Linked DNA regions of Homo sapiens: region 2 is linked to region 1. A link means that fine-mapping ties the variant in region 1 to the expression of a gene that starts in the linked region. Tissue or cell type: subcutaneous fat. Region 1 holds a variant in brackets; the other region holds the start of a gene. All regions are shown on one strand. Distances are between the middles of the regions.

Region 1 (8,000 bases):
ATGATTTTCAGTTCTATATTCTTACTGATTAATGTGTATATACTAGTTCTGTTACTAAGGAGGGATGTTAAATTAATCCCTAGCTGTAATTGTGCATTAGTTTGTCTCTTTTCAGCTGTTCTAGCTTCATAAATTTTTGGAGCTGTTAGGTGCATATACGTTTAGGATTATTTTGTCTTCTTGGTGAACTAGACCTTTTATCATTAGGAAACTGTCCATATAACCACTCCATTTTTAATTGTTTACATGGTTTTTCCATCCTTTTAACCTATCAATCACTTGAATTGACTTTCTTTATAGACAGCAGATCACTGGGTTATGTTGGTTTTTTCCGTGTCTCTTGTCATTGATGCACTTAGACCATTTACATTTAATGTAATCATTGATACGTATGGGTTTAGTTCTACCATTTTTTTTTCTTTTTTTTTTTTTTTTTTTTTGAGACAGAGTTTTGCTCTTGTTGCCCAGGCTGGAGTGCAATGACACAATCTCAGCTCACTGCAACCACCACCTCCCAGGTTCAAGTGATTCTCCTGCCTTGGCCTCCTGCGTAGCTGGGATTACAGGCATGAGCCACCGTGCCTGGCCTTTTTCTTTTTTAAACAGGGTCTTGCTCTGTCACCCAGACTAGAGGTGCAGTGGCACAGTCATGGCTCACTGCAGCCTCAATCTCCTGGGCTCAAGTGATCCTCAAGGGCCTCCAGAGTAGCCCACCACCATGCCTGGCTTTTTTTTTTTTTTTTTTTTTTGTAAGTAGAGACACATTTCACTGTGTTGGCCAGGCTGGTGTCGAACTCCTGGGCTCAAGCCATTGCCCACCTCAAAGTGCTGGGATTACAAGTGTGAGCCACCACACCCAACCAGGTTATTTGAACATTTTTAAGTACTGTATTTTCTCTATTGTAATATTGACTGTCATCTCTGTGCAGGTTTTTTAGTGGTTGCTCTAGGTTGAAACGCTTTGAATTCTTAGGTATCTAAGAGTGAGCATTTTCTTTTTTTGACTGCTATACTCTCACCAGTTGCCAGCTTCTCATATAAATATTGTAAATGCTCTCGTTTAGGTAACTCAGCTTCTGGAGTTGAGGGAACTTCAAAATCAGAAGAGCTCTGGGAATCTGCATTTGTGCTAAGATTTAGCAAACTTTTTTCCTCGGGTATATGTGTCTCACTGCTTAGAGTAGTTGGTTCTCCAGTACTAGGAACTATTGTCACATCTTTATCTCTGCTTTTCAAATCAGAGTAAGTATCCTTTGGGCAAATTACATTTTGTTCCATGAGAGAGGCAGGAATATTCTCTTTGATTGTTGGTCTGTAGTCAGCTTTGTCCAAGGAAGTAATATCCCCACTGTTTCTCTCTTGGGAAGATAACAAAACAGTATCAGATTGGCTGTCCCAGCCTTGACTTCCTTGTTCTGTTATGTGTGTTGACTGGGAAGAATTCTGGGAGGAGATGTGAGTTGATTCTCCATCAGAGTCACTGAAAAGCTTTGGTGACTGAGATCCCCCTGCCACTGTGGAGGAAGGGAAGTTTTCCAAACTCTCATCTGTGATTTCATCATTTCTTTTAAAGAATACTTCCCACTGGGGTACATCCCCATCAGCCTTTTGCAGGTGAAGTACAGAGCCCAGATCTCCTTGCAGTGAAGCTGGGATTCCTACTTCTTCTTCACTTTCACTGTTGGATTCTTCACAATCTACAAAGTTTGTGAAACGAGAGCTCTGCATACACTCTGCTCTGCAGCATCCTGGGGTTTGTCTCAGTTTTTCAGGCTGCTTTTCTGATACTGCAGTCATTGAAAATACCTCAGGGTGAAAAGTTTCCGGGTATGGAACTTTGTGCCTTAAAGGTATTGGCAGAGGATCATCAAAGAGATAGTCATCTTCCTCCTCTGTGGGACAAACAAAACAGGTTTATAGGAAACAAGGCAAAGGGAGCCAATTTGTAGTATTTATCTGTACTTTTAATTCTTGGAATTGCAAAGAATAGGGAGGCCACTCTTCTTCAAAGGGAAAAGATATTCTTGGGATATGCTGAACAATTTAACTGCCATCCTTCAACTTTTTATAATAAATGCCAGAGTATCAGTGGAGAATATAGAGCAGTCACTCTGCTCTATATGTAAGCCTGGCTGATCATTACGATCATATGCAAAACTTCAAAAAAAGAAAAAAAAAAAAAACAGGTTTCTGTATCTCATTCCAGACCTACTGAATCCCTGAGGAAGATAGGACCAAATAATTTGATTTTTAAGTTCTACAGCTGATATCTGTTCAGCCAGGTTTGCAAAGCCTGTGTGCTCTGCAAATAGTAGATGCTCAGTGGGTTGGCTGACTTAGGAAAATTAAATTGCTTTTTATTAAGGTTTTTCTTCTGTGAGCATCTTATTGACATGTTTTATGCACAAGGTTGCAACAGGTTAAATCAACTTTAAAGCAAAATACTGAATAATCAACGTGTCAAGAACTTAAAATTCAAAACATTAATAAGCATGCTGTGTCAACAAATGTTCTTAAAATGAAAAAAGCCTTACTTAGAAAAACAAATATTTTCCCATCTTGTAACAGTATCTAACCTAGGAAGAAAGTTAAATGCACCCAAGACTACTGTGTATGGCAACTTCTTGTTCTACTGCTGAATCTGGTGTTATAATAATCCACTTAAATGATGTGGCTAAACACTGCATTTTTAAGACACTAATATAAAGGACCATAGAGACCATTATCCAGCTCCCATGTTCCCCGTGTGAAGCTAGGCCCAGAGAAAAGGGTGTGCCAATACACACGACCCAACCTCATTCTTAAAGGTTCAGTGTTATGACTTGTAACTGAACTTAGGGCTTAAGGTCACTAAGATATCTAACGACTGTATTTGGAATCATCCTAGACTGCAGAATGTAGATTTTAAGCCAAAGATCATATGTATGTTTTAGGTCCCTCACTACTATGCCAAAGTTGTTTTTTGAGTTTTATACAGTCACAGTTCAGCCTCTACCTCTCAGGCTCAGGAGATCCACCCCCATGCCCAGCTAATTTTTTTTAGACAGTGTTTCCCCTTGTTGCCCAGGTTGGTTTTGAACTCCTGCACTCAGGCAATCCACCCCCTCGGCCTCCCAAATTGCTGGAATTAGAGGCATGAGCCACTTTGCCTAGCCCAAAATTACCTTTTTATGAAATATTTTTGTATGATCTCTAAGTTGAACAGTTCTGCATTCCAAATCAGTGACTATGCCTGATCCCAAAAGACATTTATCAAAAAGGAGTGTGGATTGGGTAGATGCATAAAAGGCACAAAAGATTAAAGGAAGAAAGGACTTTTGCTTCCAGGTAAGATGGAGTAACGGACTAGATTTA[A/C]CCTCCCACTTGAAATAACGAAAAATCAGAAACTATCTCTCAAGAAAATGGACATCGAGCAATTAAGGACAATGACATGAGAAATAAGACACAGATGAGTCCTATGATTGCCTGACTCCCTGCTTCATAACAGATTCCAGTCAGGGAGGGAACATCTGGATAGAGCCCATGGACATCCTTGATGTGAGGTGGAAGTGGAACATTGAAGAAATAAATGTACCTGGAGTTTACAGAGCAGAAGACCAGAGAGGAGAGTGCTGCACAGAAACTCTGAAAAGCTGCAGAGGCGTCCCCACCACGTGTTCAGTGCACTAAGCAGCATGTGCTTGTAAGGAAACTACCTGCAGCCAGGCAACGAATCACTCAAACAAAAGGAAAGAAAGTGCCCAGAACTCACCGTGCCAGGAACAGTGTCTTGTCCTGGTCCCAACAGCCAGAGTGGAAAACCTCATGATCCATGGGCATTTGTAAAAGAACCAAGAAGAGCCTTGCCTCAGTAGTGGGGAAAATTAACCATATACTAAATGCTACTCTGTTCCTGCATAACAAAGGTAAAAGACACGAAAAGATCAAACTATAAACATGCTAACCACATGCCAGAACAAAGCTCAAGAATGTTTTTAGAAATCCCAAAATTATGCAGGACCTAAAAAGGTAAAATTCAGAATGTATGGCATTCAAAAACAAATTATCAGAAATTCAAGAAGCAGGAAGATACAGTCAAAACTGACTGTAAAATTATGTAACATGGGAGTCAATTTTCATGATCTTGGATCAAATAGTTTCTTAGATATGACACCAAAGCATATGCAATAAAAGAAAAAAATAGACAAATTTAACTTAAAACCTTTACGCTTCAAGACACCATCAAGAAGGTGAAAAGACAAGTCTGAGAAAATATTTCCTAATCATGTCAGATAAAGGACTGATACCAGACTTTAACTCTTACAACTCAATACAAAGGTCAATAATCCAGTTGAAATGGGGGCAAAAGATCAGAATAGACATTTCACTGAAGAAGTTACATAAATGGCCAATAAGCACATGAAAGAAAGCTCAACATTAGTCATTAGAGAAATGCAAATCAAAACTGCAGGGTACCACCATACACTAGGATGGCTATACTAAAAAAGACGGAAGTGTTGGCTAATATGTGAAGGAACTGGAATCTTTACATATTGCCGGAGAGAATGTAAAATGTATTCAGTGTGGGAATGTTTGGCAGTTCCTTGGAGTGTTAAAACAGATTGACCATATGTTATGAACTGAACGCTTCCTGTCAAAATTCATATGTGGAAGCCCTAAAGCCAGTGTGGCTGTTATCTAGAGATGGACCTCTAGGGAAATAATTAAACCATCATAAGGCTGGAGACTTGATCTGCCTAAGTGCTAGAATTACAGGCTTGAGCCACTGTGCCCAGCCTAATTTTTACTTTTTTTTTAAGCAGAGACAAGTTTTCACCATGTTGGCCAGGTTGGTCTTGAACTCCTGATCTCAGGTGATCCATCCGCCTCGGCCTCCCAAAGTGCTGGGATTATAGGCGTGAGCCACTATGCCTGGCCTCCTGTTTAAGCTACCTAGTATGTGTTATTTTCTTAGGGCAGCCCAAGCCAACTATATGACTCCAAAATTCTACCCCCCACAAGAAATAAAACCCAACAGAAAGATACGTAAAGACTTGTACTCAAATTTTCATAGCATTATTATTTAAAAAGGAGAAGCAACCCAGATGTCCATCAGCTGGTGAGTGGATAAATAAAATGTTGTATGCCTGTACAATTGAATATTGGTTGGCAATAAAAAGGTATGAAATACTGATATATGCCACAGTATAGATGTACCTTGAAAAGATAATGCGAAATAAAAGCCAGGCACAAAATAGCACATGGTGTATAATTTCTTTTTTTTCTTTTTGAGACAGAGTCTCGCTCTGTCGCCCACACTGGAGTGCAGTGGTGTGATCTCACTGCAAGCTCTGCCTCCTGGGTTCACGCCATTCTGCCTCCGCTGCCCTAATAGCTGGGACTACAGGTGCCCGCCACCACACCTGGCTAATTTTTTGTGTTTTTAGTAGAGACGGGGTTTCACCGTGTTAGCCAGGATGGTCTCGATCTCTCTGACCACATGATCCACCCGCCTTGGCCTCCCAAAGTGCTGGGATTACAGGCGTGAGCCACTGTGCCTGGCCAATAGCTGGGACTACAGGCGCCCGCCACCACACCTGGCTAATTTTTTGTGTTTTTAGTAGAGACGGGGTTTCACCGTGTTAGCCAGGATGGTCTCGATCTCTCTGACCTCATGATCCACCTGCCTTGGCCTCCCAAAGTGCTGGGATTACAGGCGCGAGCCACTGTGCCTGGCCATATGAGTTCTCTTATATGAAGTGTCCAGAAAACACAAATCTATAGAGACAAACCATAGATTAGTTGCGGCCTAAGGCCGGGAATAGTAATGGGGAGTGACTGGAAATAGACATAAAGTTTCTTTTTTGGGTAACAAAAAATGTTCCAAAATTAGATAGTGGGGATGATTGTACAATTCTGTTATACTAACAGTCGTGGAATTGTTCACCTATAATGGATGAATTTATGGTGTATCAATTATACTTCAATAAAGCTTAAAAAATAATTTTGTATTGTGGAGTTTATAAAGTTAATAACAGAGAATGTATGACAATAACAGCACAGACTGGGAGAAGAGGAATGGAAATATACTGCTGGAACATTCCTATACCATATTTGGAGTAATATATCATTTATCTTTTCACTCTGATATGTTAAAGATGTATACGGTCAGTCCTCTGTATCCACAGGTTCCACATCTGTAGATTTGACTGACCACAGATCAAACATATTTGGAAAAAAGCAAAAATTAAAATACAAAAAACACAAAAATTGATACAGTATAACAACTAGTTACCAAGCATTTACACTGTATTAGGTATAAGTAATCCAGAGATGATTTTAAGTATATGGGAGGATATGTGTAGGTTATATGCAAATGTAACACCATTTAATATGACTTGAGCATCTGCAGATTTTGGTACTCTTGGGGGGGTCCTGGAACCAATCCCCCAAGGATACTAAGGGATGACTGCATTATAAGCCACTAAAATAAGAAATCAGTGAGTTACACAGCCAATAACCCAACAAGAGATTAAACAGAATCAGTCAGTAATTACTTGACCTGAAAGAAGGCCAAAAAAGAATAAAGAACAAATGGAACAAATAGCAAGAGGATAAACTTAAACCTGACCATATCAATGGGTACCATTAAACTAAGTGGACTAAGCACTGCAATTAAAAGCCAGAAAATACCAGGTTGGCCATAAAAACATCCAACAACATACTGCTTACAAGAAACCCACTTTAAATATAAAGACTAGTTAAAAATACAGAGATGGAAAAAGATACATCAAGCCAATATTAATGAGAAGAAATTCAAATGGCTCTAGTAGATTGTAGAACTAAGAATGTTACCAGGGGATAGACTCATTTCCTAAAGATAAAGGTATCAATCCCTCAAGAGGATATAAGAATCTTAAACTTGTGTATACCTATTAATAGTGCCTCAAATAGATGAAGCAAATGCCAATAGAACTAATCAAGGCAAAATAGGCAAGTCCACAATTACAACTGGAGATTGCAACACCCCTCTCTGGCAATAATTGATAGAACAAGAATGTAGAAGACCTGAACAACATTGTCAACTAACTTAGCCTAGTTGACATTTATAGAACACTTCATCCAACAACAGTAGTACATATATTTCTTTGAAGTACACATTAAACATTTACCAGGTTTAATGTGTAAATTGGTCCACAATTGATGGTCCGTAAATATTCTGGACCATAAATTTCAAAAGTACCAGGCCAGGTGTGGTGGCTCACGCCTGTAATCCCAACATTTTGGGAGGCAGGTGGATCACCTGAGGTCAGGAGTTTGAGACCAGCCTGGCCAACATGGCAAAACCCTGTGGCTACTAAAAATACAAAACATTAGCCAGGTATGGTGGCGTGAGCCTGTAATTCCAGCTACTTCGGATGCTGACACAGGAGAATCACTTGAACCTGGGAGGCAGAGGTTGCAATGAGCCAAGATTGTGTGACTGCACTCCAGCCTGGGGAACAGAGAGAATCCATCTCATTAAAAAAAAAAAAAATCATACAAAGTATGTTCTCTAACCACAATAACATTAATTTAGATAACAGAATAATCCCTGGGAAGTCCTCCAAAATTCAGAAACTAGTAACAAATTTCTAAATAACCCATGTGTCAAAGAAAAAAAGTCAAAGGAAAAATTTAAAAATGTTTTGAATGACAATGAAAACAAGACAAATTTATGGGATGCTGCTAAAGAGGGAAAATTATAGCACTAAATGCCTACATTAGAAAATAAGGTCTCAAATCAACGACCTCAGCTTCCATATTAAGAAACTTAAAAATGAAAAGCAAATAAAATTCCAAGTAAGCAGATAAAGATCAGAGTGGAATTCAATGAAATAGAAAACTACCCCGTGCCAAAAAAACAAAAAAGAGAGAAAATGAAAATAAAACCAAAAACTTCTTATTTGAGAAGATCAGTAAAACTGGTAAACCTCTAGCTAGACTAATCAAGAAAAAAATGAGAGAAGACACAAACTACT
Region 2 (9,383 bases), 43 kb after region 1:
ATTGTTTAACTAAACCAGTTGGACATGGTGGCTCTTGCCTGTAATCCCAACACTTTGGGAGGCCGACGTAGGCGGATCACCTGAGGTCAGAAGTTCAAGACCAACCTTGCCAACATGGTAAAACCCCATCTCTACTAAAAATACAAAAATTAGCCATGAATAGTAGCACACCCCTATAATCCCAGCTACTCGGGTGGCTGAGGCAGGACAATCACTTGAACATGGGAGGTAGAGGTTGCAGTGAGCCAAGGCCATAACACTGCACTTCGGCCTGGGCGACAGAGTGAGACTTCATCTCAAAAACAAACAAACGGCTGGGCGCGGTGGCTCATGCCTGTAACCCCAGCACTTTGGGAGGCCGAGGCAGGCGGATCACCTGAGGTTGGGAGTTCGAGACCAGCCTGACCAATACGGAGATACCCTGTCTCCACTAAAAATATAAAATTAGCTGGGGCTGGTGGCGCATGGCTGTAATCCCAGCTACTTGGGAGGCTGAGATAGGAGAATTGCTTGAACCCCGAAGGCAGAGGTTGCGGTGAGCTGAGATTGTACCATTGCACTCCAGCCTGGGCAACTAGAGTGAAACTCCATCTCAAAAATAAATAATAACCAAAAAAAAAAAAAAAAAAACAAGAACAATAAATTGCTTAGCTAAACCAAACCAATTCTAATTACCACGAGCACCACCACACACACACACAAGCACCCCCTCAATTTATATGTCGTGTGGCCATCATTAGACCCAGTGAAAGCAGAGCAGTCACCACATGTCACTTGGCAGCCCTTGATTGTATATATGCCTCCAGGAGAGTCCACCTGTCTCCCACTGGGTAAATTCCCTCAAGGGATATCTGGTCCAGTCTTTTAGGGCCTATGGGTATATCCCTGGGCAGCATTCTCCGTAATTGGAGTTTCCAAAGAGTTTGCGCCATGGCAAAGAGGAGGCTGAATGCAGACTCTGCATCCTGCTCCCACACTGACTAAGCAGGCAGCACCCTGCATGGTGCATCATGGTCCCCCATCCTCACCACCCTGAGGCCCCTTCCAGCTGGTAGTCACAAGAACTGGATGGGTTTGCTTTGTGTGGCTGGAACTGCACCCAGGTCTGCTTTTCCAGGGAGGTTTTCCTTTTCCTTGGCAACCATCATAAATTGTCCCCTCTAGGGGATTTCCCCAACCCTGGGCCACTATCTCAGGTCTCAGGGGTCGGGGGGCCCTCTCATCTTTCAGAACTTACTGATGATGCTTAGTAAAGCCCACCCTGCACACAGCATTGGCTTCCAGATGGCCCACAAATAAGCATCAGGTGGGTCCATAGCCTACTCCGAATTATATCAAAATGTGATGTGGGGCTGGGTGTGGTAGCTCACACCTGTCATCCCAGCACTTTGGGAGGCTGAGGTGAGTGGATCACCTGCACCCAGGAGTTCGATACCAGCCTGGGCAACATGGGGAAATCCTGTCTCTCTATAAAAAATAGAAAAATTAGCCAGGCATGATGGTGCATGTCTGTAATCCCAACTACTCAGGTGGGAGTACTTGCTGAGGTGGGAGGATTGGTTGAGTCCAGGAGGTGAAGGCTGCAGTGAGCCGAGATCGCACCACTGCACTCCAGCCTGGGTGACAGAGCAAAACCCTGTCTCAAAAAAAAAAAAAAAAAAAAAAAAAAAAAAAAGGAAGTGATGTGGATGGGTTTCCATGCATTTTTTCTAGCAAAAGAGTCCATACAGTTTCTCATGTTTGAGCTGCTATCACAAGATACCATAGATACCATAGTTGGCCTTCACACCAGCGCTGTAAGGAAAGGTAGTGTTTTGGTTGCCTTCAACACCAAAAAGGTATTTCTCACAGTTCAGGAAGCTGGGAAGATCAAGATGCGGGGCGATTTGGTTTCTGGAGAGGGCACTTTTCCTAACTTACAGACAGCCGCCTTCTCACTATGCACTCACATGGCTTTCCTAGGCCCCGCATGAGGACAGAGCGCCCTCTCTCTTCCTTCTCTTGTAAGGAAACTAATCCTATCAGAGTAGGACACCACGGTAGGACCCCACTTAAACTTATTTTCCTCCTAAAAGCCCCAGCCCCAAATACAGTCGCTTTGGGGGTTAGGGCTTCAACATATGAATTTTGTGGAGATAGTCCATATCATAATCAAAGAAGCCTGTGTCCCAAAAAGGTGAAAAGCCAACAGAAGGCAATGTGAGAAACCTCCAAAAGCAGAAGTTGTGTTTTCACCCTTGATGAGTTTATGTCCTGGTTGACTAAGCAGATCCACATGTGGTCAGAGAACAGAAAAAGTTGTTATAGACTGTTCAACAGTAGGGAAGAGTCCATTTCTGGCTTAATGCACAAACTTATGATGATTTCAAATTCCTTTAGATTTATTATTTCTCCAAACTCAGCCATCCTAAACACGAAGTGCAAGTTTCGGAAGTATACTTTAATCCTGGCTAGCCCATTTTGAGTTCAGAGACTCCAGTGCGGCTCTACACAAAAAGTAAAAATAGGCATATCCTCGTCCAGCAGTGGATTCTCAATGAAAAACAAAACCAGAAATGTGTCAGGCACAGCGGCTCACACCTGTAATCCTAACACTTTGGGAGGCTGAGGTGGGTGGATCTACCTGAGGCCAGGAGTTCGAGACCAGCCTGGCCAACATGGTGAAACATCATCTCTACTAAAAACACAAAAATTACCTGGGTGTGGTGGTGCGTGCCTGTAACTCCAGCTACTTGGGAGGCTGAGGCACGAGAATCGCTTGAACCCAGGAGGCGGAGGTTGCAGTGAACAGAGATCACGCCACTGCACTCCAGCCTGGTGATGGAGACTCCACCTCAAAATAATAATAAAAATACAAACATTAGCTAGGCATGGTGGCTGACTCCTGTAGTCCCAACTACTTGAGCAGAGAGCATGTGCCACACTGTACTCCAGCCTGGGCGACAAAGGGAGACCCTGTCTCCAAAAAAAAGAAAAAGAAGAAGGAGATGCTCAAAGACGTGCACGATGCGAATACGGCAACGCACGAGAAGAGGTCCAGATTTTCCCATTAAAGAGAAATCACTGGTGGCTTTGTGGAAAAAAAAAGCAGAGACATTTCGCAGAAGCAGTAACTTCAACGATTTATAGTCCAAGTGATTGATTCCACACACAAAACAACATAGCTGGCCTTCACACCAACCCTGTGAGGAAAGGCTGTGTTTGGATACCTGTAATTTACTTTAAAATACTTTCCTACTGCGCAGGTACAGATAGGTTTGTTACGCTGATTGACTCCACAGGGTAGTGGGAGCTTCCTGCTCCAGCACGCTGCAAGGCCACACAGCAGGAGGCAGCAACTCCAGTGATTCCGTTTATCATTTTCTCCAATTAACACTAATGGCTGGGCGAATTAGCACAATGAGCATTAAAACTGTTTTCCCTGGTAAAAGTTAGTGACTTGTTAGCACAATAGAAGTGAAAATGAACAATGGTTGTCAAGTTAGCGGTATTTAAACTCTGGAACTTAGCTCCAATCTCTGCTTGGAGCATCAGCGACACTCTAACCTTAATCCCTAAATCGGCCCAGCTGTGAAAGGATCCAGCTGTGAAATCATAGTAGCTTTTCAGGTTGCCTGATACCATCTAGAAGGGAAACATCCCTCCAACCTAAACTAGAACGAAACTTTCATATTGGATACGGACAGAACACCCAAAGGCCAAGGAGCTTGCACTTCGTGGAGCTCTTAGGCGGGCTGTTCCACAGTTGTGTGTGTGTCTGAGTCTCCTGCTTGCTGACCAATGTTTGAGGGTGTGGTCAAATGGATCTGAAACTTGTTTTCTTCATACATGGTAGCGAGGCTCTGAGGGAAGTACTAACCCTCGCCAATCTCTGATCATCGGCCACCAGCAAAGCTACCAAGAGAAACTACTAGCAGTGCTTGACCAAGCCGGCCCGGGGCGCAACTGGCAGGCGCCGTTACGCCGCGTTGACCACATCCGAAAATAGATGAAGCCTTTGAGAGGCTGAAGAGCCCGACTGGGACAAGGCGTGTGCTGGCCGCCCCCTCGCTGGCTTCCCACAGGCTGCAGCTCCTTGCTCCAGGGCCGGCCCCCTCCTGTCCTCTCTCCAGCCCCCAGCGCCCCGGGAGCGGGCGACGCGCAGCCCTCACTCACCTTTGTGGCAGTGGGACAGGAAGTAGGCGCGGGCCCTCAGGTTCTCCCTATCGAAGCGGTCTATGGAGATAGTTGGATACTCGGCCATCTGCCCCTCGAAAGAACTCATAGCGCCGCCGATCCCAGAGTCCGGGACCCCAAAACCGCAGCTGAAGCCAAGGCCAGCCCTGACCGCGCCGCCACTTCCGGGAAGCCGCGCGCTGCCTCGCCATTGGGCGGCCGAACGCAGCCACGTCCAATCAGAGGAGTCCGGAGACCGGGGGCAAAGTCAAGGAGCATCCGGTCGGGTTCTAGGCGCCCGCTGCTTGGGTTTAAATCACCCGCGCTTCGCTGCACGCGATGGGCCCTGAGCCCTGCCCAGTGCAAGGCTCATTCCCGCCCAACAAACACAGGTGTTGCTCTGGTAAGGCGTTGCCCATGTCTGTGGAGGTGCAGTCGCGGGAAGGGAAATCGAAACTCCCAGAGCAGGTGGCCCCAGCCGACGAGGTGAGTGGGCTGCGGAACTGCGCTTAGAAATCATTCTTCGTTCCGCTTCCTGCTTGTCTGCTGCTAGCCTGAAACCCGAGCTCAGTTCCCCGCCCTCTCTCTTCTGTTCCCAATTTCTAACCTTGTGGGATTACCGTGAGGGTTGTATGAGAAAGTTTGTATCTGACTCATGGTAGATTCAGGAACTATTAATTCCCTCTTCCGTTTATATAATCTACAAACTGAATAAATCATCTCTGCGTGATCTTGGGGCAAATAAGATCCCAATAATGCCTTCGCTGCTGGCCTCTCCCCTGGGCCCCCACCTTTTTGAGCTATACTTTTAGGAAGTTAGAATGATGTACTTAAAAAAAGAAAAATGGCAGGAAAGGTCTAAAATTTTTTAACAACCAAAGCAACTTTATGAAAAGGTTTGTTAAACCTTTTATTGTATTTCCTTTATTGTATTACAATAAACCAAATAATCACCATGACATTTATTGTGCTCCTTCCTATCAAATCTCCTTAGTATAATTAAACACAAACAACCCAGAACACTTTCGCTTTATTTTATTTATTTATTCAGTTGGGGTCTAGTTCTATCGCCCAGGCTGGAGTGCAGTGGCGTGATTTCGGCTCTCTGCAACCTCCGCCTCCCGGGTTCAGGCGATTCTCCTGCCTCAGCCTCCAGAGTAGCTGGGACTACAGGCACGCGCCGCCACGCCTGGCTCATTTTTATATTTTTAGCAGAGACGGGGTTTCACCACGTTGACCAGGCTGGTCTCGAGCTCCTGGCCTCATGCGATCCGCTCGCCTCGGCCTCCCAAAGTGCTGGGTGAGCCATTGTACCTGGCTTTCCAGGCCTCCATAACACTTGAAGTCCCACTTTGTGCACAGCACTGTGACAAACCTTCGGGTAGCATTCAATCTATCTGGCGACAACATGTTTGCAGAATATGGCAAATAAATGCTTCCACAGAGACGCAAGGTAACGTGAGAACAAATCCAGGAACAAAGATTTCTGACCAGGGAAATCAGGAATCAGAATGCCATCCCAGCCCACCTCAGTGGCTCATGCCTGTAATCCCAGCACTTTGGAGGGCTGAGGCAGGTGATCACCTGAGGTCAGGAGTTCAGGACCAGCCTGGACAACATGGTGAAACCCCATCTCTACTAAAAATACAAAAATCGGCCGGGCATGGTGGCACACATCTCCAGCTACTCGGGAGGCCGAGGCAGGAGAATCACTTGAACCTGGGAGGCGGAGGTTGCAGTGAGCCTAGATCATGCCAGTTCACTCCAGCCTGGGCAACAGAGAGAGACTCTGTCTCAAAAAAACAAAACAAAACAGAATGACATCCCTAGTGAATGTCAGCTTGTGCCTGTAGCCATGATACTCAGAGTTCTATTCAAATACAGATTTCCATGAAATCTTGAGGAGGGGGAGGAGGGGTGACATGGAAAGGTATACACAACATAATCACTAATTGAGGTAAAATATCCTGCTAGTATACTACTGGCAACACCTTTGATGGTTTGTCTTAGAACACATGGGAACAACTGCCCTGGCAGGGTTATGGAGACCTAACAACAAATTCTGCTGTGAGTCTAGTGTCCGAAGAATCTCACGGTAGAGCTCCAGGAAAGGCAGGTCAAGTTAATGCTCGTGATCTTATGTATTTGCTCACTTATTTATCTCCTCCTCTTTCCACAATGGATACAGTACAAACAAAGGGAAATAGAGTCAGGACAAAGAGAAAGACAGGATAGAAAATAGGCAAGATAGGTAAGCATAGCCCAGACCAAACCTAGTGAATCAGAAACTCTGGGAGAGTGGGGCCTGGCAGTTTGCAGCTTAACACACCTTCTAGGTGATTCTGATGGACCCTAAAGTTTGAGAACCACTGGATTCGAGTCTAAAGAACATTCAGGGCCAGTGTGGTGGCTCATGCCTATAATCCCAACACTTTGGGAGGCCGACGCAGGTGGATCACCCGAGGTCAGGAGTTCGAGACCAGCCTGACCAACATGGGGAAACCCCGTCTCTACTAAAAATAAAAAAAAAAATAGCCAGGCATGGAGTCAGGGGCCTGTAATCCCAGCTACTCAGGAGGCTGAGGCAGGAGAATTGCTTGTACCCAGGATGCGGAAATTGCACTGAGCCGAGATTGGACCATGGCACTCCAGCCTGGGCAACAAGAGCGAAACTCCATCTCGAAAGCAAAACAAAACAAAAAAACACAACACTCAAGAAGTCTGGGGCAGGAATTCAGGTAGGAAGCTGCTGCAATACTGCAGGAAATGTGATGGTGAAGCTTAATTCATTCAGCAAATCATTCACTGACCATCTACTGTGTATCAGACACTATTTTAGACACTAAAGATACAGTAGTGAGCAAAGTAGACAAAAAATGTGGCCCATCCTGGTGGCTCCTGCCTGTAATCTCAGCACTTTGGGAGGCCAAGGCAGGTGGATCACTTGAGGCCAGGAGTTAAAGACCAACATGACAAAACCCCAGCTCTACTAAAGATGCAAAAAGAATTAGCCGGGTGTGGTGGTACACCTACAATAACAACTACTTGGGAGCTGAGGCACAAGAATCACTTGAACCTGGAGGCAGAGATTGCAGTGAGCCAAGATGGCACCACTGCACTCCAGTCTAGACGACAAAAGAGACCCTGTCTCAAAAAAATAAAACTAAAAAAGCAGACAAAAATCCCTGTGGACGTGGGAGTGTACCTTCTAATGCAAGTAATTACTGTCTACCATTTATGTAGTTCCAGATGTTATCAGTGTTTTATACTCATTATTTCATCCTCACATCCTACCTGCCCATCAGATAGGTACACTTTCTGTCCTCATTTGCCAGTTGAGGATACGGAGGTTAAGTAGCTTGTCCAGGGTCATGTTGATAGTAAGTAGAGCTCAGATTTAAATCCAAGAAGGCCACCACACTTTTAGACACTGTGCTCTCTGACAACACACTGCTAGCCACCGTGCCATGCTGCCTCCACAGCATCGGAAGGGCAGTGATGAAATATACTGATTCAAAATATATCCCTTTAGCACCTACTGTGTGCTAGGCAGTGTTAGGCCAGTGTGGCTGCAGCAGAATGATCCGGGGCTACAGAGGAAGGAGGGAGGGTGTTGTGAGCAAATCTTACAGGGCTTTGCTCACCATGTATAGCCTCTGGTTTTCACTCTCCATAAGATGGGAAGCCATTGCAGGGTTGTGAGCAGAGGACTGACATAATTTGACTTAGGTTTTTTTGTTTTGTTTTCTTTGAGACGGAGTCTCCCTCTATGCCCAGGCTGGAGTGCAGTGACGCAATCTCGGCTCACTGCCACCTCCACCTCCACCTCCACCTCCTGGGTTCAAGCGATTCTCCTGCCTCAGCCTCCCGAGTAGCTGGGACTACAGGTGCACGCCACCACTCCCAGCTAGTTCTTTTGTATTTTTAGTAGAGAAAGGGTTTCACCATATTGGCCAGGCTGGTCTCGAACTCCTGACCTCGTGATCTGCCCACCTCAGCCTCCCAAAGTGCTGGGATTACAGGTGTGAGCCACCGCGCCCGGCCTTGACTTAGGTTTTAAACAGATTGCATTGACTGTTGTGTTGACAACAGACTACAGAGGGGGCATAGAGAGCTGTTGGGAACGGTTGTAATTACCAGAAAAAAGAAAAATTATGATGGCTTGAGTAGAAGCTATAAAGTCAGCAGGTTGCATTGATGGATATGGAAAGAGAGGGCTCTAGGCCACATCTACTAAAAGACATGAAGAAGGAGCAGGGTTTTTGTTTTTGTTTTGGCAGGGAGGTGTTTGGGGAGGTTGTTTTGTACAATCAAGTGGATGTTGAATATACATTGATATACAAATCTAAAGTTCAGAGAAAGACCGGGCTGAAGAGAGAAATTTGGGAGTTGTAAGTAAATAGTTTTTTGTTTTTAGTTTTACTAAGTATTGCCTTTGTTTTAGTATGACTCGTTTATTTAGAAGTTTATATAATTTAATTTGTGATATGTCTTGTGTTTTTGTTTTGTTTGGGGCAGGTGCCCGAGGCCCTTGTCATCTTCATTGACTCCAGCTCATGGCTTGTATTTAACAACGAGCTCAGAAAAATTCCTAAAAATTTAATTACTGAGTCTCCAGAGCTCTAATGAGCTGGCTCCAGCACACAATTGCTCCTTTCTTTCATTCAACAATTTGACAAGTCCTGATGGCTCTACATTCAAAACATGTAAATTGGCCGGGCGCGGTGGCTCACGCCTGTAATCCCAGCTCTTTGGGAGGCCGAGGCGGGTGGATGACGAGGTCAGGAGATCGAGATCATCCTGGCTAACACGGTGAAACCCCGTCTCTACTAAAAATACAAAAAATTAGCCAGGCGTGGTGGTGGGTGCCTGTAGTCCCAGCTACTCGGGAGGCTGAGGCAGGAGAATGGCGTGAACCCGGGAGGCGGAGCTTGCAGTGAGCCGAGATAGCACCACTGCACTCCAGCCTGGGCGACGGAGCGAGACTCCGTCTAAAAAAAAACAAAAACAAAAAAACAAAAAACCGTATATCTTGAATCTGATCACTTTTCGCTTAGATAGTACTGTAATATAGTAATAGATAATGCTAGAAAAAATAATTAAAGCTATAGATATCATCTATTGTAGGTTTACTGATTGTCAGGCACTATGGCGACTCTCTGGAATGGTTCATTCCTCGCAAATGAATAGATAGGAGATATCTACTATCAGGAACTACAAACACAGTC

Alleles and levels. Alleles are on the strand shown, and positions count from the first base shown. SD is a standard deviation of normalised expression in the study named.
With allele C in place of A in region 1, the expression in subcutaneous fat of the gene that starts at base 4,350 in region 2 is higher (small effect, 0.23 SD a copy in GTEx).

Evidence for each region. PIP is the estimated chance that this variant, and not a neighbour inherited with it, causes the effect.
Region 2: DCLRE1C starts here. The variant in region 1 is fine-mapped to the expression of DCLRE1C in subcutaneous fat (GTEx, PIP above 0.99). The same link has a PIP of 0.9 or more in prefrontal cortex, putamen and tibial nerve.

The regions. Positions count from the first base shown.
Region 1 is chr10:14,907,439-14,915,438 of GRCh38, forward strand. DCLRE1C (DNA cross-link repair 1C) reads right to left here. Exons shown (of 14, transcript NM_001033855.3): 14 at 1-1,892. The coding sequence ends at 970. Among named protein-coding and RNA genes, the nearest start is that of SUV39H2, 33 kb to the left of the region's middle. The variant A/C (reference allele first, on the strand shown) is at 3,355.
Region 2 is chr10:14,949,747-14,959,129 of GRCh38, forward strand. It overlaps DCLRE1C (DNA cross-link repair 1C), which reads right to left and starts at 4,350. Exons shown (of 14, transcript NM_001033855.3): 1 at 4,156-4,350. The coding sequence starts at 4,264. It also overlaps a transcript of MEIG1 not described here. RefSeq lists enhancers at 2,987-3,715, 3,716-4,443 and a silencer at 4,462-4,541.